7 linked regions of the Homo sapiens genome follow. The protein of the gene in region 1 purifies or fractionates together with the protein of each later gene. This does not show direct contact. Each region holds a gene or a part of one and is shown in the gene's direction. Other genes may lie near its edges.

What was found.
Region 2: the proteins of PRKAR2B (region 1) and ROBO2 fractionate together in Homo sapiens (co-fractionation; one large-scale study listed by BioGRID). This does not show direct contact.
Region 3: the proteins of PRKAR2B (region 1) and TXK fractionate together in Homo sapiens (co-fractionation; one large-scale study listed by BioGRID). This does not show direct contact.
Region 4: the proteins of PRKAR2B (region 1) and AMY1C purify together in Homo sapiens (affinity purification with mass spectrometry, with the first as the bait; 3 studies listed by BioGRID). This does not show direct contact.
Region 5: the proteins of PRKAR2B (region 1) and PNMA2 purify together in Homo sapiens (co-immunoprecipitation; one large-scale study listed by IntAct). This does not show direct contact.
Region 6: the proteins of PRKAR2B (region 1) and HCN1 purify together in Homo sapiens (co-immunoprecipitation; one large-scale study listed by IntAct). This does not show direct contact.
Region 7: the proteins of PRKAR2B (region 1) and TF purify together in Homo sapiens (affinity purification with mass spectrometry, with the first as the bait; one large-scale study listed by BioGRID). This does not show direct contact.

The regions. Positions count from the first base shown.
Region 1 is NC_000007.14:107,159,063-107,162,704, forward strand, and holds the end of PRKAR2B (cAMP-dependent protein kinase type II-beta regulatory subunit), read left to right. Parts: intron 1-386; coding exon 387-520; 3' UTR 521-2,749; downstream 2,750-3,642. UniProt on the Homo sapiens protein: Regulatory subunit of the cAMP-dependent protein kinases involved in cAMP signaling in cells. Type II regulatory chains mediate membrane association by binding to anchoring proteins, including the MAP2 kinase.
Region 2 is NC_000003.12:77,042,860-77,047,394, forward strand, and holds part of ROBO2 (roundabout homolog 2 isoform 23 precursor), read left to right. Parts: intron 1-4,535. UniProt on the Homo sapiens protein: Receptor for SLIT2, and probably SLIT1, which are thought to act as molecular guidance cue in cellular migration, including axonal navigation at the ventral midline of the neural tube and projection of axons to different regions during neuronal development.
Region 3 is NC_000004.12:48,071,180-48,075,714, reverse strand, and holds part of TXK (tyrosine-protein kinase TXK), read left to right. Parts: intron 1-1,661; coding exon 1,662-1,780; intron 1,781-4,040; coding exon 4,041-4,198; intron 4,199-4,535. UniProt on the Homo sapiens protein: Non-receptor tyrosine kinase that plays a redundant role with ITK in regulation of the adaptive immune response. Regulates the development, function and differentiation of conventional T-cells and nonconventional NKT-cells.
Region 4 is NC_000001.11:103,748,000-103,752,964, forward strand, and holds the start of AMY1C (alpha-amylase 1C precursor), read left to right. Parts: upstream 1-1,898; 5' UTR 1,899-2,067; intron 2,068-2,424; 5' UTR 2,425-2,470; coding exon 2,471-2,638; intron 2,639-2,983; coding exon 2,984-3,130; intron 3,131-3,933; coding exon 3,934-4,131; intron 4,132-4,579; coding exon 4,580-4,810; intron 4,811-4,965. UniProt on the Homo sapiens protein: Calcium-binding enzyme that initiates starch digestion in the oral cavity.
Region 5 is NC_000008.11:26,507,065-26,511,435, reverse strand, and holds part of PNMA2 (paraneoplastic antigen Ma2), read left to right. Parts: intron 1-1,758; 5' UTR 1,759-1,888; intron 1,889-2,192; 5' UTR 2,193-2,680; coding exon 2,681-3,775; 3' UTR 3,776-4,371.
Region 6 is NC_000005.10:45,256,432-45,259,932, reverse strand, and holds part of HCN1 (potassium/sodium hyperpolarization-activated cyclic nucleotide-gated channel 1), read left to right. Parts: 3' UTR 1-3,501. UniProt on the Homo sapiens protein: Hyperpolarization-activated ion channel that are permeable to sodium and potassium ions. Displays lower selectivity for K(+) over Na(+) ions.
Region 7 is NC_000003.12:133,769,711-133,774,245, forward strand, and holds part of TF (serotransferrin isoform 1 precursor), read left to right. Parts: intron 1-797; coding exon 798-862; intron 863-4,535. UniProt on the Homo sapiens protein: Transferrins are iron binding transport proteins which can bind two Fe(3+) ions in association with the binding of an anion, usually bicarbonate.

The DNA.
Region 1 (3,642 bases):
GAACACAGGATAGAAAACACTCTTGTGCCACCCTTGAGGAGTTCACATTGCTAAGGTGGAGACAGCACATTTATTTTTTAAAATTCTAAGGTCTTTCCATGATAGTCCCTCATTCTTTTCTCAGCTTGGACCAGGAACCTCCCACCAACTTAGCATTGCTCATCATATTGCCGAGGGACTGCAGAGTGTGGTCCAAGAGCGTGGCCCTGGCTGCTTCCTTTTTCAAGTGGAACATTTTTATCATTATGCTTTTTCTTGTATTTTATAGTATTTACCTAAAATATCATTGCACTATTGATATATATGGAGTCGGTATTGTAAATGACTTAGAAATTCTGCAGATTTGCAAAGAATGTTATTTAAAAAAAAATCTTCTCTTTTCTCAGCAATGGATGTGCAAGCATTTGAAAGGCTTCTGGGACCTTGCATGGAAATTATGAAAAGGAACATCGCTACCTATGAAGAACAGTTAGTTGCCCTGTTTGGAACGAACATGGATATTGTTGAACCCACTGCATGAAGCAAAAGTATGGAGCAAGACCTGTAGTGACAAAATTACACAGTAGTGGTTAGTCCACTGAGAATGTGTTTGTGTAGATGCCAAGCATTTTCTGTGATTTCAGGTTTTTTCCTTTTTTTACATTTACAACGTATCAATAAACAGTAGTGATTTAATAGTCAATAGGCTTTAACATCACTTTCTAAAGAGTAGTTCATAAAAAAATCAACATACTGATAAAATGACTTTGTACTCCACAAAATTATGACTGAAAGGTTTATTAAAATGATTGTAATATATAGAAAGTATCTGTGTTTAAGAAGATAATTAAAGGATGTTATCATAGGCTATATGTGTTTTACTTATTCAGACTGATAATCATATTAGTGACTATCCCCATGTAAGAGGGCACTTGGCAATTAAACATGCTACACAGCATGGCATCACTTTTTTTTATAACTCATTAAACACAGTAAAATTTTAATCATTTTTGTTTTAAAGTTTTCTAGCTTGATAAGTTATGTGCTGGCCTTGGCCTATTGGTGAAATGGTATAAAATATCATATGCAGTTTTAAAACTTTTTATATTTTTGCAATAAAGTACATTTTGACTTTGTTGGCATAATGTCAGTAACATACATATTCCAGTGGTTTTATGGACAGGCAATTTAGTCATTATGATAATAAGGAAAACAGTGTTTTAGATGAGAGATCATTAATGCATTTTTCCCTCATCAAGCATATATCTGCTTTTTTTTATTTTGCAATTCTCTGTATTCTATGTCTTTAAAAATTTGATCTTGACATTTAATGTCACAAAGTTTTGTTTTTTTAAAAAGTGATTTAAACTTAAGATCCGACATTTTTTGTATTCTTTAAGATTTTACACCTAAAAAATCTCTCCTATCCCAAAAATAATGTGGGATCCTTATCAGCATGCCCACAGTTTATTTCTTTGTTCTTCACTAGGCCTGCATAATACAGTCCTATGTAGACATCTGTTCCCTTGGGTTTCCGTTCTTTCTTAGGATGGTTGCCAACCCACAATCTCATTGATCAGCAGCCAATATGGGTTTGTTTGGTTTTTTTAATTCTTAAAAACATCCTCTAGAGGAATAGAAACAAATTTTTATGAGCATAACCCTATATAAAGACAAAATGAATTTCTGACCTTACCATATATACCATTAGGCCTTGCCATTGCTTTAATGTAGACTCATAGTTGAAATTAGTGCAGAAAGAACTCAGATGTACTAGATTTTCATTGTTCATTGATATGCTCAGTATGCTGCCACATAAGATGAATTTAATTATATTCAACCAAAGCAATATACTCTTACATGATTTCTAGGCCCCATGACCCAGTGTCTAGAGACATTAATTCTAACCAGTTGTTTGCTTTTAAATGAGTGATTTCATTTTGGGAAACAGGTTTCAAATGAATATATATACATGGGTAAAATTACTCTGTGCTAGTGTAGTCTTACTAGAGAATGTTTATGGTCCCACTTGTATATGAAAATGTGGTTAGAATGTTAATTGGATAATGTATATATAAGAAGTTAAAGTATGTAAAGTATAACTTCAGCCACATTTTTAGAACACTGTTTAACATTTTTGCAAAACCTTCTTGTAGGAAAAGAGAGCTCTCTACATGAAGATGACTTGTTTTATATTTCAGATTTTATTTTAAAAGCCATGTCTGTTAAACAAGAAAAAACACAAAAGAACTCCAGATTCCTGGTTCATCATTCTGTATTCTTACTCACTTTTTCAAGTTATCTATTTTGTTGCATAAACTAATTGTTAACTATTCATGGAACAGCAAACGCCTGTTTAATAAAGAACTTTGACCAAGGCTATAAATGCCACGTACATTATTTTCAGTATTGTTGGTTATATTTAAATTTTCCTTACAATAAAGCACACTTTTATAATAAAATACATGAATTATTGTTTTTCATACTTTTTTGCTTGTTTCTTTAAAGTTTTCTGACGTGCATAATGCATAATTCATTGAAAAGCATGATAGCAATGTGGCATGTGGAAGCGAACCCCCAGGGCATAACATAGTAAGAAAGTATGGTTCTGTATGGCAATAGGTTTTTAAAATTATTAGCTATTCATCATGTGTGGGAGAAATAATTGTGGTGTGTTGCAGATTTATTTGGCCATTTAGAATAACCAAATCAATCTGGCTAACTAGGAATTTATGTGTAAAATTATCTGATTAAAACAGCTCAAGTTTGACTTGTGGATGTCATTATTTAATTATTAATCAACACTCCTTACTATGTGAGAATTCTCTGTTGACCATTCATTCAAGGACAGAGCCTCTCGTGTATCATGCGTGGCTAAGGAAAGGGGTGAGGACTTTTTCCCCAAGAGTGACGGTGCTTTCCCTTATTTTAAATAAAGGTGTGTGTGTGTGTGTGTGTGTGTGTGTATGTATGTGTGTGTGTATTGTTTTCTACATATCCATATGTACTAGGGCTTAGTGCAGATATTTTAACATACACGTTACCTGTGACACAACTTAGGTGAATGTATATGTGTTACCATTAGGATTAGTATTATAAACTCTGGCTAAATGCCATTTAAAATGCTTTAAAAGGCCGGCACCATGGCTCATGCCTGTAATCCCAGGACTTTGGGAGGCTGAGGCAGGAGGATCACGAGGTCAAGAGATCGAGACCATCCTGGCCAATATAGTGAAACCCCGTCTCTATTAAAAATACAAAAATTAGCTGGGCGTGGTGGCATGTGCCTGTAGTCCCAGCTACTCAGGAGGCTGACGCAGGAGAATCGCTTGAACCTGGGAGGCAGAAGTTGGAGTGAGCCGAGATTGTGCCACTGCACTCCAGCCTGGTGACAGAGCGAGACTCCGTCCATAAAACAAACAAGCTTAAAAATTCTTCAAGTGAAACGGCATGAAGCAAGAGACTTCGGATTTTATTGAAATGTAAAATTTAAAAACGCTGTGTTCTTTCCCTTCCCAAAGCATCTTTAAAGATACTGATAGAATTTTTCCTCTCAAAAAACGTTATAAAGGATGAGATGACCTTTGCCATTCTTAAGGAAAATTAATACTGTGTAGGCCTAGAGAGGTGAGTCATACATCTGGATTAAGGCAGAGCTTTGTT
Region 2 (4,535 bases), on another chromosome or scaffold:
GCAGCAGAACTCATAGTAATGTAGTGAAAAATGCCAAAATTGAGGAGTTGACACTGAAAAGGCAATATTAAATTTTTGTGTGTGTGAAACTAGTTTTGTATTTAGCATCTGCTGTGTCAAAAGCAAAGGAAACCCTGGACACTCTTACTAAATTAATATGTAAATCATACGTTTGACATTGGATTGCCTTTGGATACTTCAGAATGACAGTTTCTCCACGGGGATGGTTGAAAATTTGGGATGTGGAGAACACTGCCCTCTAGGCTGTTTCAGCACTTTGAGACTCAGTGTTCACATATATAGTGAAGAGGTTGGTTTGTAGGTTCTCTAAGCTTTGTTACTCTTCCAGGATTCTATGATTTCTATTTACTTATTCTTCTTAGAGGTGTGTGCTTATACTCCACATGAATTTCAAATGTACAGAAGCCTGTACCATTTCAAAGATATACTGACCATCCTTGTGCTAGACACAGATATTAATTTTATTCAGTGACAAATGATACATATATTTGCATTGATATTTGCTTGGTGGGTTATTTATATGTGCATTTTTATAGTATATGAAAAATGGTAGCGTTTTGCCACCTCATAGAAGCTATCTGCTAATATTATTTATAATTTTTCAGTATTGTGTCCCTGTAGCAATCCATAGAGAGCAAATATTAAGTTAGTTGAGAAATGTAGATAAACTTTTCTATTTGGGATGTAAATAATGGTTTTCTTATTGATGCAGATTAATCACATCTAGACTTTTCTGTATGATCATATAGGAGAATGTATGTTAAGGTTAGCCTTTGTTTTCCAGCTTTTCTTTATTTTTGAATAAGAATAGGGTTTTGCAGTCATTTATGGGAAATTAATATGAACTATGGCAACACTTTTAAATTACATCTATATGCCATATATTACATCAATCTGATAATTTTATAATACTTGTGAAAAGGTGTTTTAAAATGAGAATGTTTTTCTCATCTTTACCCTTTAACTATTCTTAAATGAAAGTGGCACACATGATATTAGGGGAGATAAATATAGTAAAGATAATGTATGTGCATAGTGCAGATGTAGAATCTCATAGAGGTTTATACATGTTGCTAAAGTGCTCTTTTTCAGTAATGGGCTTATTATCATAGCCATATGTAGTCTATTTCAGAATTTAAATTATATATAAGTAACCTGAAATGTGTTTTTGAAGCTATGCAGTAATACCATGTTTGAATTGGCTTTGTTTGAATAACCTTTGATGCTACGCAACATGTGGACCATAAAAAAAAAGGATTTCTTAGAACATTAAGCAAAAATATTGTAAAAAAAAAAAGTAATGATTATATAAAAAGAGCAGTTCTGGCCATCTCATCCCTGAGCAGCTTGTATAAAATAGCATGTTTGACGATAAAAATATAGATATGTAAGCACATTGTATAAGTTGGGATACATACATAGCAATGAAGGGAGCTGATGTATGTGGGATGTGTGTGTGCCTAGTAATATCTGCTGAAATAGTTCCGGCAGTCTACAGGAGGTACATTTACTTCCCATGTGCAATTTGGTTTTCGAAGAGTATTAGAAAAAAAGATTATCATCTTATTTACTATTTCTCCTTTTTCTCCTTTTTTTCCTCCTTCTCCTCTCCTTCTCTTTCTTCTTCTCATTCATCGTCTCTTTCCTTTTCTTATTCTCCTCCTCTTTTTTTCTTTTTTGGATCTAATGAAAGGAATTAGAGAAACACTTGAAGAGTGAAGAAGATAGGTGAGGGTGTTTCTTGAATGATAATTTAGAAAATCTGCATTTAAAGGAAAAATGTGAATAATATTTTACCTTTAGGTATATCCAACTGGGATTTTGACTTTCTCACTTTTACCCCACAATACTATATATAGCTTTATGCAAAATGTTTTGCACGGATCCTATCATTTTCCAGTTTACACAAGTAAAAGTCGTCATATCTGAGTTCAAGCAAACAGTGGAGATTTATAGAGTGCCATTTTACAGATTTATTTCTAAAGAAAAGTATTGCTGTATTTCTTAAAGGTTCTCCAGGTATAGATCTATCAACCTAAATCAATACATTGGCATAGATATTGCTTTTCTCCTTCTTCTCTTCTTTTTTTTTCCATGTGTGCCTTTATTAGCTGAGCCACTACTTGAGGGTTTAAGGTCTTTGTGAGGGGCTTGGAACACCCAATGTTGGGGGAGGGAGGCGGGCGGTAGGGAAAGTATCTGAAAGGACTTCCTGAGCCAGCTGTAGGCTTTTCTTCTTCTTGTAAAAGAATTACTATATAAAGAATGAAGGAATGATTATAAACTCTTTTTAAAAATAAATACCTATCAACTCTACTGTTTTAGTAGTGTGTTATACAATGATAGAAGCATATAGCATCTAGGGTAGCATGCTTACCCAGAATACTTGACTCAACACAGTGTTGGAGTAACGGAGGCCTCAATCCTTAGTGTTTTCTCCTCCATTTGCAGCCAATCCTTAGGCTCTTTCATCTAATCACATGAGGTTTAAATACATGTTTGGATTGATAATTCTAAAATTGCCCTAATCATTGCATGGAGGGATATAAGATCCATCAGCACAGAACTTGGCTGTTGTATATACTGTTGATCTCCAGTGCTTGCATCAGTGCTTGACATACTCACCTGACTACTTGACGTCTTTGCTTCATGTCCAATGAGAATGTACAAAACTCAAGCCTAAGACAGAATCTTCTCTTTCTAGCCATTCCCATCACAGTAAATGGCTTCCACCATTCATAGGCTTTTTCATGACCCCCAATGAGGAACCATTTTTCACTTGTTCTCACAACTTGTATTCAACTTGTTCTCAGAATTGTGCAACCATCACTACAATCTAACTTTAAAATGTTCTTAATTACCCAAGAAAGAAACTATGTAGCTTGTTCCACCATCCCTCCACCAACCACAAGAAATCACCACTCTACTTCTGCCTCTGTGGATTTGTCTTTTCTGGACATTTTATATATAAATGCAATCATACAATATATGATGTCATTTTGTGACTAGCTTCTTTTCTTTAGCGTAATGTTTTTAAGGGTCATCCGTGTCATAGCATATGCATCAGTACATCATTCTTTTTTATTGCCAAACAATATTCCTTATCATCTATCCTTTGGTTTACTAGTTGATGAACATTTAAGTTATTTCCATTTTTGGCTATTATAGATATTGCTGCTTTGAACATCCACGTACTAACTTTTGTGTGAACATATGTCTTCATTTAACCTGGGATGGAAATGCTGGGTTGTATGTTTAGTCTGTGTTTCACATTTTGAGGAACTGCAAGACTATTTTCCAAAGCAGCTGTGCTACTTTACATTGCCATTAGCAATATATGAAGTAGATATTTTCTTTTAATTGATCATGGAAAGAAAGAGTCGAAGGGCCTTATGAGTTGGGTATGATGTTTTGAAGTGAAACAATTTTATATTATACTAATCTGTCTCAAATCCCCAATAGTCCTGATTTCTAATCCCTTCAGTGGTTGTTGTCTTCTAAGTCTTCCTCAGTTGCCTCGTAAAACTTTACAAAGATAGTACCTCAGTTGAACTTGTCACTTTTAGCAGAGATCTCAGCAATAGTAAATATAAATCATAGAATGATAGCATCTCGGAGCCATTATGAATATTTGCAGCTATATTGCACAACTCTCTTATTGGTTGGGCACATGGAGAACTGAAGCTTAGAGATTTTATGTGCCTTGTCACAGATCCCATTGCTACTTAGTGGTAGAGCAGAAACTAGACTCCAGGGATGCTTCATCTCTGTACCAGGCTTCTGCCTATGAGAGACTGTTTCTGGATTCTTAGCCCTGGAACTCCTTAACAAGAATTCCAGGCTCTTGTTACTGAAAATGACCAGCTATTTTCTGAAGAGTCCATGAGAAAATGAGCTTGAATATGTTTAGGTTATTCCTTTGATTCAACACATGCATATTGACAACATAACTTGCTTGGCTCTGTGAAGAACATGCTGACCTGTGAAAATATTCCCACATTCAAGGAAGTCATGACTTGGTAGGGAAGGTACCAAATGTTCAAGTCACTAGAATAAAAAAAGTAGTGTCTGATAAGTAAGAAGTTTGAAGGTGTACACAGTATAGTCTTGAGAACTCAGAGAAGGAATAGGTGATTTCCAGCTGGTACAATCTGGGAAGGGTCAACACCAAATGGGTCTCTTAACCTGGACCTTAGAGGAAGAGTGGGATTTTGGTGGGCAAAAAGATTGGAAATTGAATTCCAGGAAAAGAAGTAACCAGAAAAATGGCATGAAGATGACAAAGGGGTGCTAAGGAAATGGCAAGAAGTCTAGATTGATTGCAACATAGTTTGCCTGTAAGGAAGAAGGATAAGATGGTTATTGAAAGACTACTGAGCAATCACTACTGAATGAGTATGAACAAGTAATTTAACCTTTTTATGCCTCAGTGTCCTTACCTGTAAAATGGGCATGGTAATAATGTATATCTCATACAGTTATAATGAGAAATAAAATAGTTTTAAAAATATAAC
Region 3 (4,535 bases), on another chromosome or scaffold:
AGGTAGCTGCTAACACGTACTGAATTTTTTCTGCAAGATTCATTCAGAACTGGCAATTTTTTTTTTCGACAGAGTCTTACTCTGTCACCCAGGCTGGAGTGCAGTGGTGCTCTCTCGGCTCACTGCAGCCTCGACCTCCCAGGCTCAAGCTATCCTCCTGCCTCAGCCCCCCGAGTAGCTGGAACTACAGGCACATGCCACCACGCCCAGCTAATTTTTTATTTTTGGTAGAGGCGGGGTTTCACCATGTTGGCCAGGCTGGTCTTGAACTCCTGACATCAAATATCCACCCACCTCACCTCCAAAAGTGCTGTGATTACAGGTGTGAGCAGTCTCACCTGGCCGGCGTTCTTTATGATTACAAAACTCCATGGTGTGATCTCAGATCTCATTTACCTAGGCACATCCACAGCCATTTGTTCACTGGCATCTTTCTGCCTTTCCAAGGGCTCCACCTGGGGAAAAGAGCACTGGTTCTGTGTCACTTTTAAATCCCACCAACCTAATGTGGGAGTAGGAGCTTCTTTCCTAAAGTACTTGGGCAGCCCTTTAGGGTACAAGATACAGGACCCTAACCCACTGATCTACTAATGTCTAGTACCCCCCTTTTCTTTCCCTTCTATTTCCCCCATTCCTCTTTTTGGGGGAAAAAGATCCCCCCAAAGCTCAGGGGATCTTTTTCTAGATAGTGGTGGTAATAGGGGTGGTGGTAGTGAGATCTCACTCCTGTTCATGGCCCATTTTCCAAGATATTTTGTTAATAACTCAATCTTTCTTCTCTGAAGAGCCTAGACTTGAAAAATTCAAAATCTATAAACAGTGGCTTTTCTCTCTTTGTTTTCTGTTAGTCATTCTTTACCTAAGTAGAATGACCTCTGACTCAATAAAGTGCTGACAGGTGGAGGGAGGTAGTGTATTTAAAAAAAAAGTGAGAGTATAGGGGCAGCATTAATAAATGCTGTGAAAACACTATATTGTATATTTAAGGGGCAACAAGCACAAGTTTATTTTTGTCTCTTCTCCTCAGTGTCTGACATTTGGACATCCCGGTGTACAATTCTCAAAAAAGAGAGAGGGTTCAACTTGTTATTTTTTTAAGGAGACGGTAGTTATTCTTGGTTTCTTTCCATATAGGGCCATTCTAGTGCATTAGAGATTTGTCATATCAGAAGCATTATGTTCATATACTTTTACTTTCCCCCCTTCTGTATGCCCCACAAAAAAACATGCACATGGAAGAAAATTCGACATCCAACTTTGAATCATTCATTTCCATTTTAAGAAGAGTGGTCTTTGTTTTCCCCACCCCTGGGAAGAGTGGTCTTTTATTTCCTTTTTATAATCTTGGTTGTTAGAGCCTTTAGCAGGCTTCTTTGTAGAGTTAAGAATTTACCATAATTAACATAAACAGTGAGCCATGTTTTGAACTGAAGCAGCATTATGATTTTCAGAGGTCCACGTAAAACAAATACAATTGAGACTTTGTTTGGGGAGGAAACATTATCAGGGACACTTTCACACTCTACTAACAAGAAGGCATCCACAACCTTTCTGGGGTAAAATACTTTGTCTTTTAGCAACTTAGAGTTAACTAAAGGGATTTGAAGTAAATAGAGCTTGGAGGTAATTAACACAATATGCTTTGAATCTGATAAACTTAGGTACGTTTTGGATGATGAGTATGTCAGTTCTTTTGGAGCCAAGTTCCCAATCAAGTGGTCCCCTCCTGAAGTTTTTCTTTTCAATAAGTACAGCAGTAAATCTGATGTCTGGTCATTTGGTGAGTGCATCTGATGTTCACTTGCTGGAGCTTGATTTAATAAAATGGGCAATGTGTTATTTTTAACTTTGATTTCCTAATTGATATAGCATTTTTTAAAAAGTCTTCTTGTAATTGTGCTTCCTTCTGTGTGTTCTAACCACATCCCGACTGTCTTTGGCAACTGGTGTCACATACCTTCTTACATAAGTCTGCCTTTTGGATCTTTTCCTTCCTCCATGGGCACTCACTATAAAACCATAACAAAGAGTCTACTGATCTAGAAAACAAACTCAGATAAGTTTTCCACTCCGCAGAGGCTTGAAGGAAAAATGATCTTATGACATTGTTTAGAGTGTAATTAATAAACTTAATTGTCTAAACTGTGAAGCAGGTTGACTATTTTCCAGTTGTTCAGTTGTTAACCTGAACTTAAAACCTGAGTTTAAAAAATGGTGGCATCTCATTTACTTCCTTAACTTTAAAGTTTGTGGAATTTAGACATAGGCTTCCTTGGGATCTATAAATTGATATTCATATTGGATAATGTTCTTCATTGAGAAAGAGACACCATAGACCCACGTCCAATGAAGTTTCGGGGTTGATTTTCAAAAAATGGTAATAAATATGCAAAAATCTATCTATCCTCTTTCACCCCAAACTTCCTGGAGGCTTGTGGGTTCTGGGTCCTCAGAAGGGTGTCAGTTTTATTGTCTACAATAAGGTTAAAACTGGGCACAGTGGCTCAGGCCTACAATTCCAGCACTTTGGGAGGCTGAAGTGGGAGGATTGTTTGAGACCAGGAGTTCAAGACTAGCCTGGGCAACCTAGCAAGACTCTGTCTTTACAAAAAAAAAAAAAAAATTAGCCAGGTGTGGTGGCATATACCTGTAGTCCCAGTTCCTCGGGAGGCTGAGGCAGGAGGATTGCTTGAGCCCAGGAGTTTGAGGTTATAGTAAGCTAGGATCGTGCCACTGTACTCCAGCCTGGATGACAGAGCAAGACCCTGCCTCAAAAAAATTAAAACATAAATTTAAAAACATACAATAAAGTTAAGCTTGTGTCATTAATCTCATTAGCTCTCCATGGACATATGATAGTCTCAGCAGGTGACACTTGAAGCTCTACTGAAGAGCAATTAGGTTGTGAGACCACATCTTAGAGACCAATGAAGAGCAATATAACGACCTCATCGAAGGTTGCCAAACAATTAGAACTCCCTGAATTTTACCTACTTGTCTCCCTCACTGAACAGTGAGCTCCTTAGGCACATGGATTGATCTCACACTTATAAAATCTCCAGGCCCCAGCAGAGGCCTCGCCTCTCATCAATGTCTAGTAAATATTTGTAGAATAAGTGAATAATTAAATGAACTCAAATTAGGAGTTCTTGCAGGAGTTTCACTAATCAATCAATCAATGATTATTGGACATCTACTTATGTACAGAGCCCCTGCTAGATATTCTGGGGCTCTGCCCATCAGTCTAATCTTTTAGCAGAAAGAAGGGGACACATGCCATTTACTGGCTGAAACTCTTGGCTAAGTAGGCAGCAGAGGCTCACATAATCCTGTCAGTTTCTATGGAATGGCAGAAAGGTTCATTGATTTCAGGATGCAGGAACGTGACTGCTGCTTAGAAATGAAAATGCTAGGCCGGGCGTGATGGCTTACGTTTGTAATTCCAGCACTTTGGGAGGCTGAGGTGGTCGAATCACCTGAGGTCAGAGCTCGAGACCAGCCTGGCCAACATGGTGAAACCCCGCCTCTACTAAAAATAGAAAAATTAGTTGGGCGTGGTGGTGGGCACCTATAATCCCAGCAACTCAGGAGGCTGAAGCAGAAGAATTGCTTGAACCCGGGAGACAGAGGTTGCAGTGAGCTGAGATCATGCCACTGCACTCCAGCCCGGTAGACAGAGGTTGCAGTGAGCTGAGATCATGCCACTGCACTCCAGCCCGGGCGACAGAGCGAGACCCTGTCTCAAAAAAAAAAAAAAAGAAAAGAAAATGCTACTGGCATTTTCTCCTGATAGGAGAGGCAATCAAGACCCATGGACAAGGAAAGGCATTGTTTTCACTTAGATTATTTTCAGGTTACAGGCCTCTTTGAAAACTAAAGTGAACATGATTTGCTTCCTTGACAGAACCGCTGTTATTCAGGATGGTTATAGCCCAAAGCCTGGAGCACAAAAATAATGCCTTGTAGTTTGAAATTGTTCTTTCAGTTCCCAAGCAATCATTTCTCTCTAACCCCTTGTTTTCCTGCATTTTTGTTTGCAGGAGTTTTAATGTGGGAAGTTTTTACAGAAGGAAAAATGCCTTTTGAAAATAAGTCAAATTTGCAAGTCGTGGAAGCTATTTCTGAAGGCTTCAGGCTATATCGCCCTCACCTGGCACCAATGTCCATATATGAAGTCATGTACAGCTGCTGGCATGAGGTAAGCATATGTTACTTTCCTATGAAGGTTGGCAGTCCCAGCATCTGAGAGCAGACCTGATTATCACAAACATTACTTCAGAACTCTGTCATGGCAGGAAAAGGCATCTGTGTCTTGGTCATGATCCTGAGAGTCTGAAGTACTATCTCAAACTCACTACAAAGTCATGAATCCATTTTGTTTTGAACAATGGCCTTTTATCTGAGGAATTCAGTGCATTTTCTGAGTCTTATCTGTTTGAGATTGGTTCTTGCAGAAACTCTTGGTGTTACTCAAGCCTCAGTGATTAGATGTTTTATTAGCTTTAAGAATTAATGGGCCGGGCGCAGTGACTCAT
Region 4 (4,965 bases), on another chromosome or scaffold:
CACGGTCTTTGATAGAACTGGGCTGGGCTTTCCTCCTTTCCTTGGATGACTTCAGAAACTTTATTTACATTGGTACCCTTTTGAGCCCCTTTTTTCAACCTTTCAATTAATGCCTCTCGGTACCCTCTTAGCCTTTCCATATCTGGTCCTTCATTTGGATCCTATTGAGGGTCCGTTCCTGGCAGCTGAATTCTTATGTATTCTTGGGGACTTTGATAATTGGCTGGGATGTGCTCCTCCAGCCATTTAACTGTTGCCTGCAGCACCTGTTGCCTTTTATGTGTTTTAAAGAGGTACATGAGTAGCTGGTGGCAATCAGCCTAAGTAGGATTCTGAGTCTGGATAATTCTTTGAAGCAAGTCAATTAGGGCTTGAGGCTTTTCAGTGTAAGATGGAGTGTTATTTTTCCAGTTGAGTAGTTCAGCAGAGGTAAAAGGGTGATACACAAAAGCATGCCTTTCTACCGTATGTCTGACCTCATCTGTCCTAGTATATCGCTGCTCTCTCAGGGCATTTGAATTCCCGTCTTGGGCCGTTAAGCGGGCTGCCAGGGAAGTGGATTTTCCCGCAGTTTCACTTTTGTTCTTGTCTACTCTGGGTGGTCTAGGGGCTGTGGGCTCAGGAGAAGGGGGCCTCCCCACTGGATAAGGGGTTGAGGGCACTGTTGGTGCCATCTCCTGCCTTGAGTCCTCGAGCTCTGGGTCAAACAGAACTTTAGGTGCTGGCTTCTCTTGGCCGGTGGAGCGAGAACTTTCCTGAAATAAATGTCCCTTTGCTACTACTACTGCTGCTGCCTGTCCTTTTACCACTGTAGAGGATCTAAAACTAGCTGTAACTAGGAATCTCTATATGGAAATTGATATGGGTGCAGGCACACCATGAGCGATCAGGCCAAGCTTCCGCTCAGGTGGAGTGGGGCAAGTTGAAAAGACTTGTCTTACTAAGTTTCAGATGTCTGGACTCCAAGTGCCAGTTCCTTCCTGGTGTTCAGCCACTGTGTTAATCCTCCGCGGGGATCACTGCTCTGGCGAGGCGTTCAACCGGGGCCATTTCCTACCTGGGAGCGCTCTTTGGATCCCATCCCTCAGGCTGGCCAGAGTCCCTGGCAGCCTGAGGGATGCCCCGGCCTTACTCCACAAGGCATGCCTAATCTGCCTAAGGAGCTGCCTCGGCCGTCCATCAGTTATCTTGCTTCCAGGTCAGGGAACCAAGAAATGTAGCAGGACAAGCGGCAGACAAAACTCTCAGACACCGAGTTGTAGAAGGAAGGGTGTTATTCACCTGGGAGCATCGGATAGCTACTGTCTCAAAATCCGAGCTCCCCAAGTGCACAATTTCTGTCCCTTTTAAGGGCACACAGCACTAAAGATGTCACATGAAAGGGTCGTGATTGATTTGAACAAGCCAGGGATATGCGACAAGGACTACATGCACCCGTGGTCAGGGAGAAACAGAATATGGAAGGGAGTTTCACAATGTTCTTCTATACAATGTCTGGAATCTATGAATAACATCGGCTTCTAAATCATAAGTTGATTTGTAACTACTGGGTTTAGGCCAACCAGGCCCAGGCCTGGTTTTGTGCCTTTGATTTTGCTTCCTTGTTGTTTTTACTGAATAGAAAACAATATAAAACAAGAGGACAGGGTCTTTCTCTCTTCTCAATATCAGCACTGGATTGTAGAACTTGTTGCTGATTTTGGCCTGGCATTCAAGTTAACTCTTCCCCTTGGTATCTGTACATACCTTTGATGTCAGTGTTTAGTACACGTGGCTTGGTCACTTCATGGCTAAAAACGTGCTTGTGGAAGACAAGTCTGGCTTGGTGAGTCTGTGTGGTCAGCAGTCTCTGATCCGTGCAGGGTATTAATGTGTCAGGGCTGAGTGTTCTGAGATTTATCTAGAGGCTGGGAAGGGCTCCTGAACCAGTTGTTTCCGTCTTGTCGGTCTGTCAGGGTTGGAAAGTCCAAGCCATAGGACCCAGTTTCCTTTCTTAGCTTACGTTATCTACCAGAGCACCGTGGGCTGTTACTTGCCTTGAGTTGGAAGCGGTTCGCATTTATACCGGTAAATGTATTCATCCTTTTAATTTATGTAAAGTTTTTTAGTATGCAATTCTCGATCTTTTAAGAGTTGACAACAAATTTTGGTTTTCTGCTGTTATGTGAGAACATTAGGCCACAGCAACATGTCATTGTGTAAGGAAAAATAAAAGTGCTACCATATGCAAAAAAAAAAAAAAAAAGAAAAGAAAAGAAACATTAATGTCTAAGAGGTCATTGAGATGATTTCCATGAGAGACTTTTTGATGTTCTTCACCAGTTAGGATTATTATTGATAATCCTTTTCAGATTATGAATAAACAGTTTGCCCTCAAGTATTTATTCATGCTACTATTTACATTGTAAAATGTGCTTCTTACAGGAATATAAATAGTTTCTGGAAAGGACACTGACAACTTCAAAGCAAAATGAAGCTCTTTTGGTTGCTTTTCACCATTGGGTTCTGCTGGGCTCAGTATTCCTCAAATACACAACAAGGACGAACATCTATTGTTCATCTGTTTGAATGGCGATGGGTTGATATTGCTCTTGAATGTGAGCGATATTTAGCTCCCAAGGGATTTGGAGGGGTTCAGGTGGGTATGATTCATAGTATCAATTGCAGAATTCACTGTGCTTGTAGTAAACACTATTCTGATCTTCTACGTGAAGCTTGGGCAACATTTTACTTCACAGGTAAGTATTCTAAGTAAAAGAATTTTCTGAGGAAAAAACAATGTAGTATTCTTTGCAACTGTATATTTTGTTTCTGATATAATCTTTCTTCAACAAGAGCCCTCCGATGTGCTGTTAATATTTTCAAGAGATAGCTGCCTATACCAAGATTCAAGAATCTTTTGTATTATTGATTAGATTCTAGAACATTCAATGATATACAGTAAGACAGAATTTGGTACTTATGAAGACTGTTTAATTTGTAGGTCTCTCCACCAAATGAAAATGTTGCCATTCACAACCCTTTCAGACCTTGGTGGGAAAGATACCAACCAGTTAGCTATAAATTATGCACAAGATCTGGAAATGAAGATGAATTTAGAAACATGGTGACTAGATGCAACAATGTTGGGGTAAGTGAATTCTAGTTTCCTTTAAAAATAACAGATAGGAAAATGATTTCTGTCTCTTCTTTCTTGCTCCTTTTGAGCAGAAAGTTTTCCATATCAGTTTTAATTTTACTTCATACTTTAAAACTCAAAAGTAACTGTCACCTTATGTTCAATTTTTGAAAATATTTGTATATGTGCTCTCTACTAAAGAGATAAGTTAAAGTTTATAGCAGAGTTTACTTCTGAAGCAAAACATCAAATTTTAACCGCTATAACTATCCATATTTCCTGGAAGGATTTTCTGGTGAGGAATTTTAATTCCAGTTACAATATTTGCTCTCATTTTTAGATGACTTGTGTCTCCATTCCTAATTCTTGGGTTTTTTTTGTGGTGAATAGGTAGCTTATCTATTTAATGAGGAGCAGAATTTGAGATGAATAGCTACCTTATTTGTCTTCCAAGCTTAGTAGAGAGTACAGGCTTTCTCCTGGTGACCCACTGAAATTTCCCAAATAGTAACCTTTTCAGTCTCATCTGAGTTGTGTCTCCCCAAAATGGGCTTTTTGCCTTTCCTCCTATTTATGGTAGTTTCCGGTTCTCTCAGTTTATCATTCCTATATATATTTGGCCAAGTGTCTGGAATGAATGTAGGTGTTTAGTTCACATTACTTTCCTTTCACAGTTGATTTTTGATCTTGTAGGAAAATAGTTATAAGGTATGAAATATTTTGGAATTTTATTAGCACACTATAAATTTAATCAATAATTCTTTAAATTTCTGCCTCTCTGTAAGTCACACTGAATTAGAAACTTTGTTTTCTAGGTTCGTATTTATGTGGATGCTGTAATTAATCATATGTGTGGTAATGCTGTGAGTGCAGGAACAAGCAGTACCTGTGGAAGTTACTTCAACCCTGGAAGTAGGGACTTTCCAGCAGTCCCATATTCTGGATGGGATTTTAATGATGGTAAATGTAAAACTGGAAGTGGAGATATCGAGAACTATAATGATGCTACTCAGGTAATTTTTTTACGAGAGTGATCTGAATAAGGAGTGATATATGCCTTTTGTTGTAGACATGTAGCTAATTGAACTTCGTTGTAAATATGAATTTAGATCTCTTAGGGACAGAGGTTAACAAGTTTGACTACTTTAAGAAACTCAAATCCATATTTGAAAACCTTTAAATATTGATTTAAGATTTTTAATCAATACACATTTGTCCACTTTTAAAAAGCTCCCAACCAATTGAAAAACTCATCGACTTTATTTCCTAAGTTCTCTATTTTCTATTAGAAAATATTTCCAAGATACATCTATAGTAGAATGTGAGCATCCCCAGTGTCCAATGCAAGGAAGTCACCATAGAATATCTCTTGAGGAATCATGGAATAAATGAATAATCAAATGGATTCTCAGGCGAAAAGTGAGGTTTTATTAATCAATCATAACATTCTTACCTCAACAGGTCAGAGATTGTCGTCTGTCTGGTCTTCTCGATCTTGCACTGGGGAAGGATTATGTGCGTTCTAAGATTGCCGAATATATGAACCATCTCATTGACATTGGTGTTGCAGGGTTCAGAATTGATGCTTCCAAGCACATGTGGCCTGGAGACATAAAGGCAATTTTGGACAAACTGCATAATCTAAACAGTAACTGGTTCCCGGAAGGTAGTAAACCTTTCATTTACCAGGAGGTACGTCAATACATATAGGCATATAAAATATCATCCTATTCATTAGAAAATTCACGGCAGATTCAATTAAAAATGCAATTTCTGTAGGATAAAGACTGAGTCATTTCCTTAAAACAGTGTTCTTTAACCTCCTCTTCTTCACATACAGCATATCT
Region 5 (4,371 bases), on another chromosome or scaffold:
TCTCAGGTCTCTGGGGCTCCTGGGCACAGGGGTGAAGCAGCATTTTGCCCTCCTGGCTCTCTGGCACCCCTGGTGCCTTCAGCACTTCCCAGAAGACTCAGGAGATCTTCCCACAGCAGGAGCACTGCTGATAGAGTTACAGGACAGCACTGTGGCGTATGGCCCCCATTCGAATTGATGAAGATGTTTAGGCCAAGGGGGAAATGGTTGTAGCCCCTTAACACACACTCCGCAGCAGTAACTGGGAGGTATTAGGAACTCTAACTTTTTTTTTTTTTTTTTTTGAGACAGAGTCTTGCTCTGTTACTCAGGTTAGAGTGCAGTGGTGCAATCGTGGCTCACTGCAACTTCCGTCTCCCAGGTTTAAGCGATTCTCCTGCCTCAGCCTCCCAAGTAGCTGGGATTACAGGCACGTGCCACCACACCCAGATAATTTTTGTATTTTTGGTAGAGACGGGGTTTGGCCATGTTGGCCAGGCTGGTTTCGAATTCCTGACCTCAGTGATCTACCCGCCTTGGCTTCCCAAAGTGCTGGGATTACAGGCATGAGTCACCACGCCTGGCCAACTCTAACTTTTTTACGTTCTCTAATCCTCACAGGTTCTCCAGAACAAAATCCTTGATAGGTGTGCTTCCTCCTTTTTTCTTTTTTCTCAAATGATGGGTTAAAGTTCAAATGTTAGGAAAGGCTGGGTGTGGTGATTCAAGTGTGTAATTCAGCACTGTGAGAGGCTGTGGCGGGAGGATTGCTTGAGCCCAGGAGTTTGAGACCAGGCTGAACAACGTAAGGAGACTGCGTCTCTACACAAAATTTAAAAAACTAGCCAGGCATGGTGGCATGTGCCTGTGGTCCCAGGTACTCAGGAGGTCGAGGTGGGAGGATTGCTTGAGCCCAGGAGAGATCAAGGCTACTACAGTGAGCCGTGTTTACACCACTGCATTCCAGCCTCGGCAACAGAGTGAGACCCTGTCTCAAAAAACAGAAACAGAAACAAATGCTTGGAGAGTGTTGTGTTAGTAACTTATTGTCTTAGTCTATTTTGTGTTGCTATAAAGGAATACCTGAGGCTGGATAATTTATAAAGAAAAGAGGTTTATTTGGGTCACAGTTCTGCAGGCTGTACAAGAAGTATGGTGCTGACATCTGCATCTGGTGACCCCTCAGGAAGCTTCCAGTCATAGCAGAAAGCAAAGAGGGAGCAGATGCGGCAAGAAAGGGAGCAAGAGTGAGGGGAGGGAGGTGGCAGTCTGTTTTTAACAATCAGATCTCGAGGAAGCTAATAGAACAAGAACCCACTCATTACCCCAAGAATGGCACCAAGCCATTCATAAGGGATCCACTCTCATGACCCAAACACATCCCACCAGGCCCCACCTCCAACACTGGGGATCACATTTCAGCATGAGATTTGGAGGGGACAAACCTTCAAACTATTTCACTTACCATTCATAGCAAAAGCAAAGCCCAAATGTGTGTTTGCAAAGCCTTCCAGACACAACAAAAGAGAATTAATTCATAATTCCCGATTTAACTTAGTCGGCCCTGAGATTTTTTTCCCTGAATTGTTATACCTAGATTAAACTATTTTTAAACGTTTGAGTGATTCCTCATTAGTTTTGTTAATCAAAGAGGTAAAGCAACTTAATATTGAGTAGTATTGTGAAGGATTATCATATTTTTGAATAAGTGCATTAACGGTCTTCCTACTGAATATTAATGAAGCATAAATACCTGTTCTTATTGTTTATGTGTAACAGAGCAGCTTGGCTTGGCTGGAGCTAAGAGCCAGACACACCACTGTGTGGAGGTGGGTGATGTCTTCCTGTGCTAAAAGGTGAATAAATAAGCTCCTCACCTCTCGCGGAACACTCGGGAACACATCAACAGGTATTTAGCCACATCTCCTGATTTCATCTTTCAATGGCAAAGACCTTGAATCCTGTCCTTAACTGGGGCTCAGACATTAATCAACAGGTCTGATGAGCATATGGTGGGGACACCAGATTTCATTGGAGTCCCCAAGAGAAAAAAAAGTCACAGTGAGCAAAGAAGGGGTCTGACAGAGTGGGACAAATGCAAGCGCAGTGTAAAGCAGAACCGCCATCTGCCCCCAGTTCCATTCCAGATTAGAGTATGGATGCTTCCAAGGAAAGAGAGTGCTGTGTAGTAAAACTGAACATTGTTTCACCAGGGGTCCAAGCCGCCCTGCTGGGAGGCTTCTCTTCAAGAGTTCTGGGTCCCAGAGTGGAAGGCATTTTCCCATCAACTGGAGAGAGACGAAACATCAGAGACCAGGAGGCTGTGGAGAAAGCAGCTGTCCCAGGTGCCTCAACTATCAGAGAAGGGTCAGCGTCACGTGGCTGCCAGCATCTTTGAGAAAATCACTGGCAATCGGACTTCAGAGCTGCGGGCACAGGTGTGGTTAGAACTGAGATACGACCTGCCCACCTGGGTCAGGCCTAAAGACAAGAAGTCCTGAGTTCTTGCCACTGAGTAGGCCAGGGTCATTTGTCCAGAAAACTTTGTGACTGTCTTTGAGTGACCTAGTCTGGGACCCATTCATTGGTGGGTTCTAAGGTTAGAAGCTCATCCAGGATATTTTCAATATTAAGTCAGTGCATAGCTGCACCACTAACAAATTGGTGCCTGTAGAGTCAGAGTGGGTCAATTCTTAGGACAATGGCGCTGGCACTGTTAGAGGACTGGTGCAGGATAATGAGTGTGGATGAGCAGAAGTCACTGATGGTTACGGGGATACCGGCGGACTTTGAGGAGGCTGAGATTCAGGAGGTCCTTCAGGAGACTTTAAAGTCTCTGGGCAGGTATAGACTGCTTGGCAAGATATTCCGGAAGCAGGAGAATGCCAATGCTGTCTTACTAGAGCTTCTGGAAGATACTGATGTCTCGGCCATTCCCAGTGAGGTCCAGGGAAAGGGGGGTGTCTGGAAGGTGATCTTTAAGACCCCTAATCAGGACACTGAGTTTCTTGAAAGATTGAACCTGTTTCTAGAAAAAGAGGGGCAGACGGTCTCGGGTATGTTTCGAGCCCTGGGGCAGGAGGGCGTGTCTCCAGCCACAGTGCCCTGCATCTCACCAGAATTACTGGCCCATTTGTTGGGACAGGCAATGGCACATGCGCCTCAGCCCCTGCTACCCATGAGATACCGGAAACTGCGAGTATTCTCAGGGAGTGCTGTCCCAGCCCCAGAGGAAGAGTCCTTTGAGGTCTGGTTGGAACAGGCCACGGAGATAGTCAAAGAGTGGCCAGTAACAGAGGCAGAAAAGAAAAGGTGGCTGGCGGAAAGCCTGCGGGGCCCTGCCCTGGACCTCATGCACATAGTGCAGGCAGACAACCCGTCCATCAGTGTAGAAGAGTGTTTGGAGGCCTTTAAGCAAGTGTTTGGGAGCCTAGAGAGCCGCAGGACAGCCCAGGTGAGGTATCTGAAGACCTATCAGGAGGAAGGAGAGAAGGTCTCAGCCTATGTGTTACGGCTAGAAACCCTGCTCCGGAGAGCGGTGGAGAAACGCGCCATCCCTCGGCGTATTGCGGACCAGGTCCGCCTGGAGCAGGTCATGGCTGGGGCCACTCTTAACCAGATGCTGTGGTGCCGGCTTAGGGAGCTGAAGGATCAGGGCCCGCCCCCCAGCTTCCTTGAGCTAATGAAGGTAATACGGGAAGAAGAGGAGGAAGAGGCCTCCTTTGAGAATGAGAGTATCGAAGAGCCAGAGGAACGAGATGGCTATGGCCGCTGGAATCATGAGGGAGACGACTGAAAACCACCTGGGGGCAGGACCCACAGCCAGTGGGCTAAGACCTTTAAAAAATTTTTTTCTTTAATGTATGGGACTGAAATCAAACCATGAAAGCCAATTATTGACCTTCCTTCCTTCCTTCCTTCCCTCCCTTCCTCCTTCTCTCCTTCTCTCCTCCTCTCTCCTCTCCTCTCCTCTCTTTCCTTCCTTCCTTCCTTTTTTCTTTTTCTCTTTCTTCTTTATTTCTTGGGTCTCACTCTCATCACCCAGGCTAGAGTGCAGTGGCACAAAAATCTCGGCTCACTGCAGCCTTGACTTCCCAGGCTCAGGCTCAGGTGATCCTCACACCTTAGCCTCCCAAGTACCTGGGACTACAGGCACGCACCACCATGCCTAGCTATTCTTTTGTATTTTTGGTAGAGACAGGGTTTTGCTGTGTTGCTCAGGCTGGTCTGGAACCCCTAGGCTCAAATGATGTGCCCAACTCGGCCTCCCAAAGTGCTGGGATTACAGGCATGAACCGCCATGCCTGGCCCTTGATTTTTCTTTTTAAGAAAAAAATATCTAGGAGTTTCTTAGACCCTATGTAGATTATTAATGAACAAAAGATTAAACTC
Region 6 (3,501 bases), on another chromosome or scaffold:
AGGGATTGTTCAGTCTACCTAGAACCTATGGGAAAGCTGCAAGACCATTTACATATCAGTACAAAACTCCTTTATTTTATTAAAATATGAGAATTAACTTCAATTTATTAAGATTACGTATTGGTCCTTTAAATTATTAAAGGTTTACATTTGATAGGATTAATGGATTTGGTAGTGAAATATTTTTATATATATAAATTTTTGGTTTTTTATTTTGAGCACTATTGGGAAACATAAGCAAAATTGAAATGCATGGTCTTTCAGTGCAACCATACAATTTTTATTCACTTTGTAATAGAATGGACAAAAAAACTAAGGTTTATATATTAAACTAATAAAAAGGTACAGGGTAAATTATATACATATATGTATGAATGTATATATACTTAGATTAAGAAAAAAAAATGACTCACATTCCTGTAATATAAAGGTCCATTGCTAGTTGAAAAGTGACCTCTTTTCTCTGTACATAGTGAAGCCCGTATGTATGGAGTTTTAATCTGTACAGAAAGAAATGTATTATTCATTGGTCTTTCTGCTGCTGGAAAGATAATAGAATAGCTGATTCTTACAACAACTGTATGATCAGGGATGAGTTAGAGTATTTCTTTTGTCTTTGCTCAAAGCCATACATATATAAATATATATAAAGATTATTAATAAATTCAACAAAAAATAAACTACAATCATGAATATTTTATTTTATCAATATATGCTAATCAAATGTTTTATTTTATTAATGAGTACAGCTTTGCCTCTATTTTTACATCATAAAATTTCCAAGAGCTTATACTTGATAATCACATAAAATCAATTATATTCTATAATTCTGGAATGAGAGGACTTTAAATAGAACATGGATTTTTCAACCACTTCTTTGTTTACCTTTTTCGTATAGTAAAATATGAGCTTATTTTCTTTTTTGCTCTGTGCCTTTTTAGAATGTGGTTGTTCTCCAACTTCAAAACACAACCATTTTGTGTAATTATTGGATATACAGATGAGAAATAATTTTCCTGTAATAATGGTAAATAATTGTCCTGTAATATATTTATACAAACCTATTTTGTTATAATAGTTCTATGACATACCTATTTTGTTATAATAGTTTTATAACATACCTATTTTGTTATAATAGGGCCTTGGGCTCTATTATAACAAAACAGGTTTATATAAATACATTCATATTTATAGCCTTAAACAAAATAGGTTTGTATAGTAGGCCCAAGGCCCTATTATAACAAAATAGGTTTGTATAAATATATTCATATTTATAGCCTTGGGCCCTGCAAAGTTATTTGGAGAGTGATAGAACCTCCCCACACAAGTGGGTTTTAAATGATACCTAAAAGCCTGAGATAGAGTTTATCATAATGAGAATAAGTAGTGAAGCATTCCTGAAAACAAGGAGGATAAATAGTAGCAATGGCAATATATTCTATTCACCAAAAAAGTAGCTTGTCTCCAGGTCTGGATGACCTCTTCATAAGTGAACAATTCCCTGATGAATGCTGTTCCACTTTAAAGAGATGGTTATTTTGCAATTTATAAACTTAACTGAGCATACTATTTTCAGGACACTACAAAGTACATAGTCAAGTTATTACCGTCATTCCTATAGGACAGAGAATGATTTAAACAATATGACATGTTTAAAATTTTAGATGATTTATTTCAAATCCTGAATTATGTCTACTTCAAATTATGAGCAATCTCTATTATCTTTCAGGACTATTTAAAAAATCTCCATACCTCCTCTTTCAGCTTAGGTTTTTATATTTGTTAATTTTACTATGTTACTTTGCTTCTATGGCCCTCACTTGCACTGTTTATAATGTTAACCTGTTTGAATGAGATATCTCTCCATTATATCTTTATCTTTTTAGAACATGTGCCATAAAACCCATGTGGTTATTTTGTTCATATGCACTACAACTAGCAAACTTTTATTTTATGTTCACCTACTTTAAAAAGTACTCATACTGTACCATGGGAAAGAAACATGGGCCTTATAGAATGGAATGCTGAGCTATTTTGAGTCCTGAAAACAATGGCCAAAAATTTAAGGAACTGTGGTTGCTGCATGCACCAAATTGTAGCACATACAAATAAATAAAATACAGTTCTATAACTGTATTCAATATGGTTATTTTCAAGGAAAAATAGGATAGAAATTTTCTTTGAAAGATTTGCTATTGTACTTAGGGAAGTACACCTGCTATTACCCCTCAAAAGCAATGACTTTCTTAAGCAATTTCAATTTTTTTCCTTTTTAACAACCCTGCACTTGCACAACCCTGCATCTCTTGTCTCACCCTAATGCTGACCCTGCTTCCAATTCAGGCTTTGACAGGGACAAATGGAGATTTTAAGGTTTTTTAATGAGAGAAGCCTTGCTGACACTCCCCGCATCCCACCTTGAAAATTATTTAAAGATGATCTTAAAAGAACCTACAGATAATGCTCTGAATTTGTTTACAAGGTCCTTGATGTGGAGAGAATGAGTAATACATTAAATGCTGGGGAAATAATTATCATTTAGTGAAAAATTAAGCATGCTTTTCTAAAATGTGGATGTTTAACAGAGCACAGCTGATTGGGAACACTGGCAGTTCAATGCAGCTGGAGTGTCTCACAGGGTGAAGAGGAACCCAGATCAAGTGGGAAATAGGGATTTCAAAAACCTTCTGAAAGGCTTTTAACATCAGGGCAAAGGTTTTACAGTGTTGTACTTTATATTCTTAATTTAAGCTTATCAACGGGGAGGATTCACATTGAAATGTCTGTTTTGCTAATGTAACAAGGAATAAAATAATTTATGACACAGCAAAAACTGGGGGCTATTTACAACCCCACCCTGCCTTGTGAGGATGCTGGGTCCTAAGGAAGGTCCTAGGTTTGCTAAATAGAGTAATGGGAATAGGAAACTGAAAGTTTACTTGCTTTGCGTAAGATAATATATTGCGGCAGGGAAGGGGTACAAGAAGATAAGAGCTAGAACCTGTGAGAAGGGAAAGAAGTGATAAAATAATTTTGGCTAAAATAAAGCAAGTTCTCAGGCCAGGCGTGGTGGCTCATGCCTGTAATCCTAGCACTTTGGGAGGCCAAAGTGGGAGGAATGCTTGAGGCCAGGAATTGGAGACCAACCAGGGCAGCATGTCAAGACCTGGTCTCTACAAGGAAAAAAAATTTTTTTAATTGACCAGTATATACTTACATACCTGCAGTGTTTAGAAAACCCGACTATAGGTGGTGTATTCCTGTAGTCCTAGTTACTCAGAAAGTTAAGGCAGGAGGATCGCTTGAACTTAGGAGGTCAAGGCTGCAGTGAGCCCTGTTCGTTCCACTGCACTCCAGCTTGGGGGACAGAGCAAAACCCTTTCTCAAGAAAAACCCAAACAAACAAAAAAGTGAAGCCAGTTCTTTAATTTCTATTGGAGATATCACACACGCTCCAAAGAGTGGCAAAGGTGAACATTCTTTGGAGCTATTATATTTCTA
Region 7 (4,535 bases), on another chromosome or scaffold:
CCATTGTCCAAAAGTCCAACCCACTCGGCTCATTGAGGAGGGCCTTGTGTAGATTTTGAAGTACACACTAGTTCATCATCTGTGTGGTATGCCCTTTCAAAGGACTGGAAGACAGTCAAAATTAAAATTAGAACCCTACTAACCAGAGTTTATTTTGTTATTATTTCTTTTCTGAAACTTCTTGGGGACTTGTAGCTCAGAGCTGTGTTACAACCCCCATTACCACACCCAGAGATATGTGGCCTGGGAGTTAGTAGAGTCAGGTGCCTTTATGCCATGTTTTGCCATATTCTCTGCATTTCTCAAAAACAAAAACAAAAAAACCCACAACATAGCAAATGCTCCATAAATGTTAAAATTCTTTTTCAAAGGAATGAAGGACAGCACAAATTGCAATTTGTGATGGAGTTTCAGTCTCTCACAAATGTTGCCTAGACATTCGCCTTGTATGAGAACCTGAAGGAACTGAGTTTTTCATTCATATGCTGGGGGAGGCATCACCTCACTGAAAATCAATTCCCTACTATCCTTGTTGATGTCAGGGAAATTATGTCATCTCTCAGAGAAACAGTACAAAAAATTAAGATTTAGTATGTGGAACTGAGATTGTAAAACTACAATCAATTCAGAGTGTTTTGTTTTTGTTCTCTTTATTCCTTACATTGCTTACTGTTAGAATGGAAGTTACAGTTGCTGTTTTCAGATGGCTGTCCTGAATCTATAAGGTAGCCCCCTGAATGACAGATAAGTCACTCTGACCGCCTTTTTTTTTCTCTCCCACTTCTGGACCTCTGCAGGTGTCTGGTTGAGAAGGGAGATGTGGCCTTTGTGAAACACCAGACTGTCCCACAGAACACTGGGGGTAAGTGCACCTGCTCCTCTGTCCCCCTAGATCACTAGATCCTGGTCACTGGTATTCACTTGTATTCAGGGATGCCTTTGTGGAAGTATTATGTACACTGTCAGACTTCAAAGCTCTGATTCTCAGTCTGTCTGCTCAGTGAAGAGAGACATGTTCACCTGAGTGCGCAGAATGATCAGGATTATGGGGCCCCCAATGGCCCTAAATCCTCCCCAACACACACTCCCACAGCTGCAAGCCTTGTGCTCCTTTCCCCTAAATACTTCAGTGCCTATTTCCTAAGAATAAGACAATCTCTTGCATACCCACAGTATGATTACCAAGATCAGGATCTTTTACATTATGTGGATTTAATACTCGTCACGTCCACAGTCCACATTTAACTGTTGTCAGTTATCCCAGTAATGCCTTTTATAGCTATTTACTGTACTTCTGGGTTGTGTCCATTGAGAAGGCCTAGAGGCAATGGCATACCAGCAGGAGTAAGCACCAAGATATTGGCTTGTAAGTACTCTTCTTTACTAAAAGGAACCAGAACTCCTTGGAAAAATAGCTGACTTCAGGGCTGGGGCAGGAAAAATAGATGCTGAGCCTAGAACAACACACTGAAGTGCTCAAACAGTGATGGGACACTCAAAGCATACAAGAACCAATTTGAAGGATCTCCTGTTGCCAAGTCTGGGAATTTTGAGCATTAAAATAAATAATGATAGCAGTAAGGGATAATAGCCCATTGAAAGAAATAAGAATGCATGAGGCAATACTGATTAAACAAATGAAGAAGGGAAAACTAATCAATGTGGAAGGAATGATAGAGTTAGAAAACTATCACTTGGCAACCAATATATTGATAACTGATTCAAGCAAGAATCAATGGGTGTTAAGCCGGGCGCAGTGGCTCACGCCTGTAATCCCAGAACTTTGGGAGGCCGAGGCGGGTGGATCATGAGGTCAGGAGATCGAGACCATCCTGGCCAACAAGGTGAAACCCCGTCTCTACTAAAAATACAAAAAATTAGCCGGGCGCGGTGGTGGGCGCCTGTAGTCCCAGCTACTCGGGAGGCTGAGGCAGGAGAATGGCGTGAACCTGGGAAGCGGAGCTTGCAGTGAGCCGAGATTGCGCCACTGCAGTCCGCAGTCCGGCCTGGGCGACAGAGCGAGACTCCGTCTCAAAAAAAAAAAAAAAAAAAAAAAGAATCAATGGGTGTTAACTTGTGGGTGAACGTTGGACAGCCATAATATTAATAAAAACAAACAAAACAAAGCAAAACAAACATTGGCCAGACTGAGCACTCCACACCTGACCCCTCAGTATCACTAAGTGCTAGCAGAGCCCACTGGAATTCAAGCTGTGAATACTTCCCTGCCTTCTCTCATGTTCATTCCCCAACTCCTCACTTTTCCTGGGCAACTCATCCAGAATGAACCGGCTCAGCACCAGCCCCTCCAGGAAGCCTTCCCAGATGGCATACCCTGTCCTACAAGAAGACTCCTCTGTTCATATTGCCATTATGATTGAATTCACCACACTCTGTAATACACTTTGGCTACAGAAACTCTTTGAGCTCTTTTTCTTCATCTTATATTCCCAGAACCTAGTGTAGCACATAGTACACAGCAGTTGCTAAGAATTTGTTTGCAGAAATATTGGGTTGACTAATTTTCCTTTCTTCCCTCGTATTATTGCTTTTTCCTTTAAGAGAGTGTTACCCTAAGCTTGGCTCTTTGCCACCCTTGATTTCTTTTGGTACTTTTCTGAGTAGAGCTCCCTTCTTTAAGCTTTGACTCTCTTACTCTTTGCAATGACTCAAAAATTCTTCCCTCCTGCATAGAATTAAGATAGGAGGCCTGACATCCAATCTCAATTCCATTCCAGTCTATTTCCCAAGGTGTCACTTTTATGTAGAGAGTACATTGGCATTGCAATTGTATTTTTTTACGTGTGTATATGGATGTCCTCATATATTGTAGTTGTATATATACAATCCATATACAACTCAACTGTCCTCATCTTTCTGTCAACGTTCCCTCCTCTTCTCCCAGCCTCTATCCTTATAGAGAATCCTGCTATACTCCCTGCCCATCAGGCCTAGATTAAGTCTGTCAGTCAATATCTTATTTCTTCAAAACGTGTCTTTTTTCAAACTAAATTTTGAAATAATTGTGTGTATTTAAGGTAGACAACATGATTTTTAAGAGCCAAAGTAATTTTGATGTATTGTAAGTTTGGGAACTACTGGTCTAATACCCCTGACTTAATATCACATTCCTGATAAATATTACTAAATGTAAGTCACATCATGTCTGATTCATCATACTTATATTTTGCACCTTCTTACCTTCTTCTGTTATTAATTTGTTGCTTTTTCAACTTATATTTTAGATTGAGGGTACATATGCAGGTTTGTTACATGGTATACTGCATGATGCTGAGGTTTGCGGTATGATTGAACCTGTCACCCAGGTAGTGAGCATAGCACACAACAGGTAGCTTTTCAACTCTTGCCCCCCTCTCTCCCTCCTCCAAAATCTGTCTTAAGTGCTATGGTATATACAAGAAGGAAGACACAAAACCACGTGGGCTTTTTTTTTTTCTTTTTTTTCTTTTTGAGATGGAGTCTCACTTTGTTGCTAGGCTGGAGTGCAGTGATGTGATCTCAGCTCACTGCAAACTCCGCCTCCCAGATTTAAGTGATTCTCCTGCCTCAGCCTCCCAAGTAGCTGGGACTACAGGCGTGCACCACCACGACCAGCTAATTTTTGTATTTTTAGTAGAGACGGGGTTTCACCATGTTGGCCAGGATGGTCTCCATCTCTTGGCCTCATGATCCGCCCACCTCGGCCTCTCAAAAGTGCTGGGATTACAGGTGTGACCCACCGCGCTCAGCCCACATGGGCTCTTTTATCACAATTTGTGTGTGTGTGTGTGTGTGTGTGTGTGTGTATGTGCATATTATAGGTGTGTGTAGGAAAAAGAATGTTAGAAATGTACCAATTTTGAAGGCGTAGACTATGAAATTACAAATGCTTCAAAATTTTCTTCCCAATACTTACGTGGCATTTTATAAATTTCCACCAATAAACGTGTATTATTTTTATTGAAAAAGCATATTTTTAACATGCCCTTCTAGATGCCCTCCTAGCCAGACTGAATCACCTCCCATTTGATTTTTCTTAATTTTCTACCTTTAGGTTCTGGCTCATTCATTAACATCAATTTCCATTCATAAGTCCTCACAAACCCACTTTTCCTCTTGCCTGAGTGCCTCACATACCCTACTGCCTGAGATGGTTCCAGAGGCGGTCTCCTCTCTCCCTTAGAAACACCAGGCACACACCTGCCCCCAGTCTCGCCTGCACTCTCCTTTCCTCCCGCAGAGAGGCATTCCTTTCTCCTCCTCTCATCCTACACACACTATAAGAGACAACTGAAATCTTGCCTCCTCCAGCCAGCTTCTTAATTCATTTGTTCTCAAAGCCCTGGTTTGAGCTCACACAGCATCTAGAGTGTTTTACAAAATATAAAATATTATTATCCCTGCCCTGAATTTTTTGTTTTGGTATGTGTGTTATTTTCCCCTCCAATAAGATTGTGCCTTGGAGAGGGCTGAGAACATAGTATCATAGATAAATGAATAAAATAACATAAAATAAAATAAAAATACATATACCC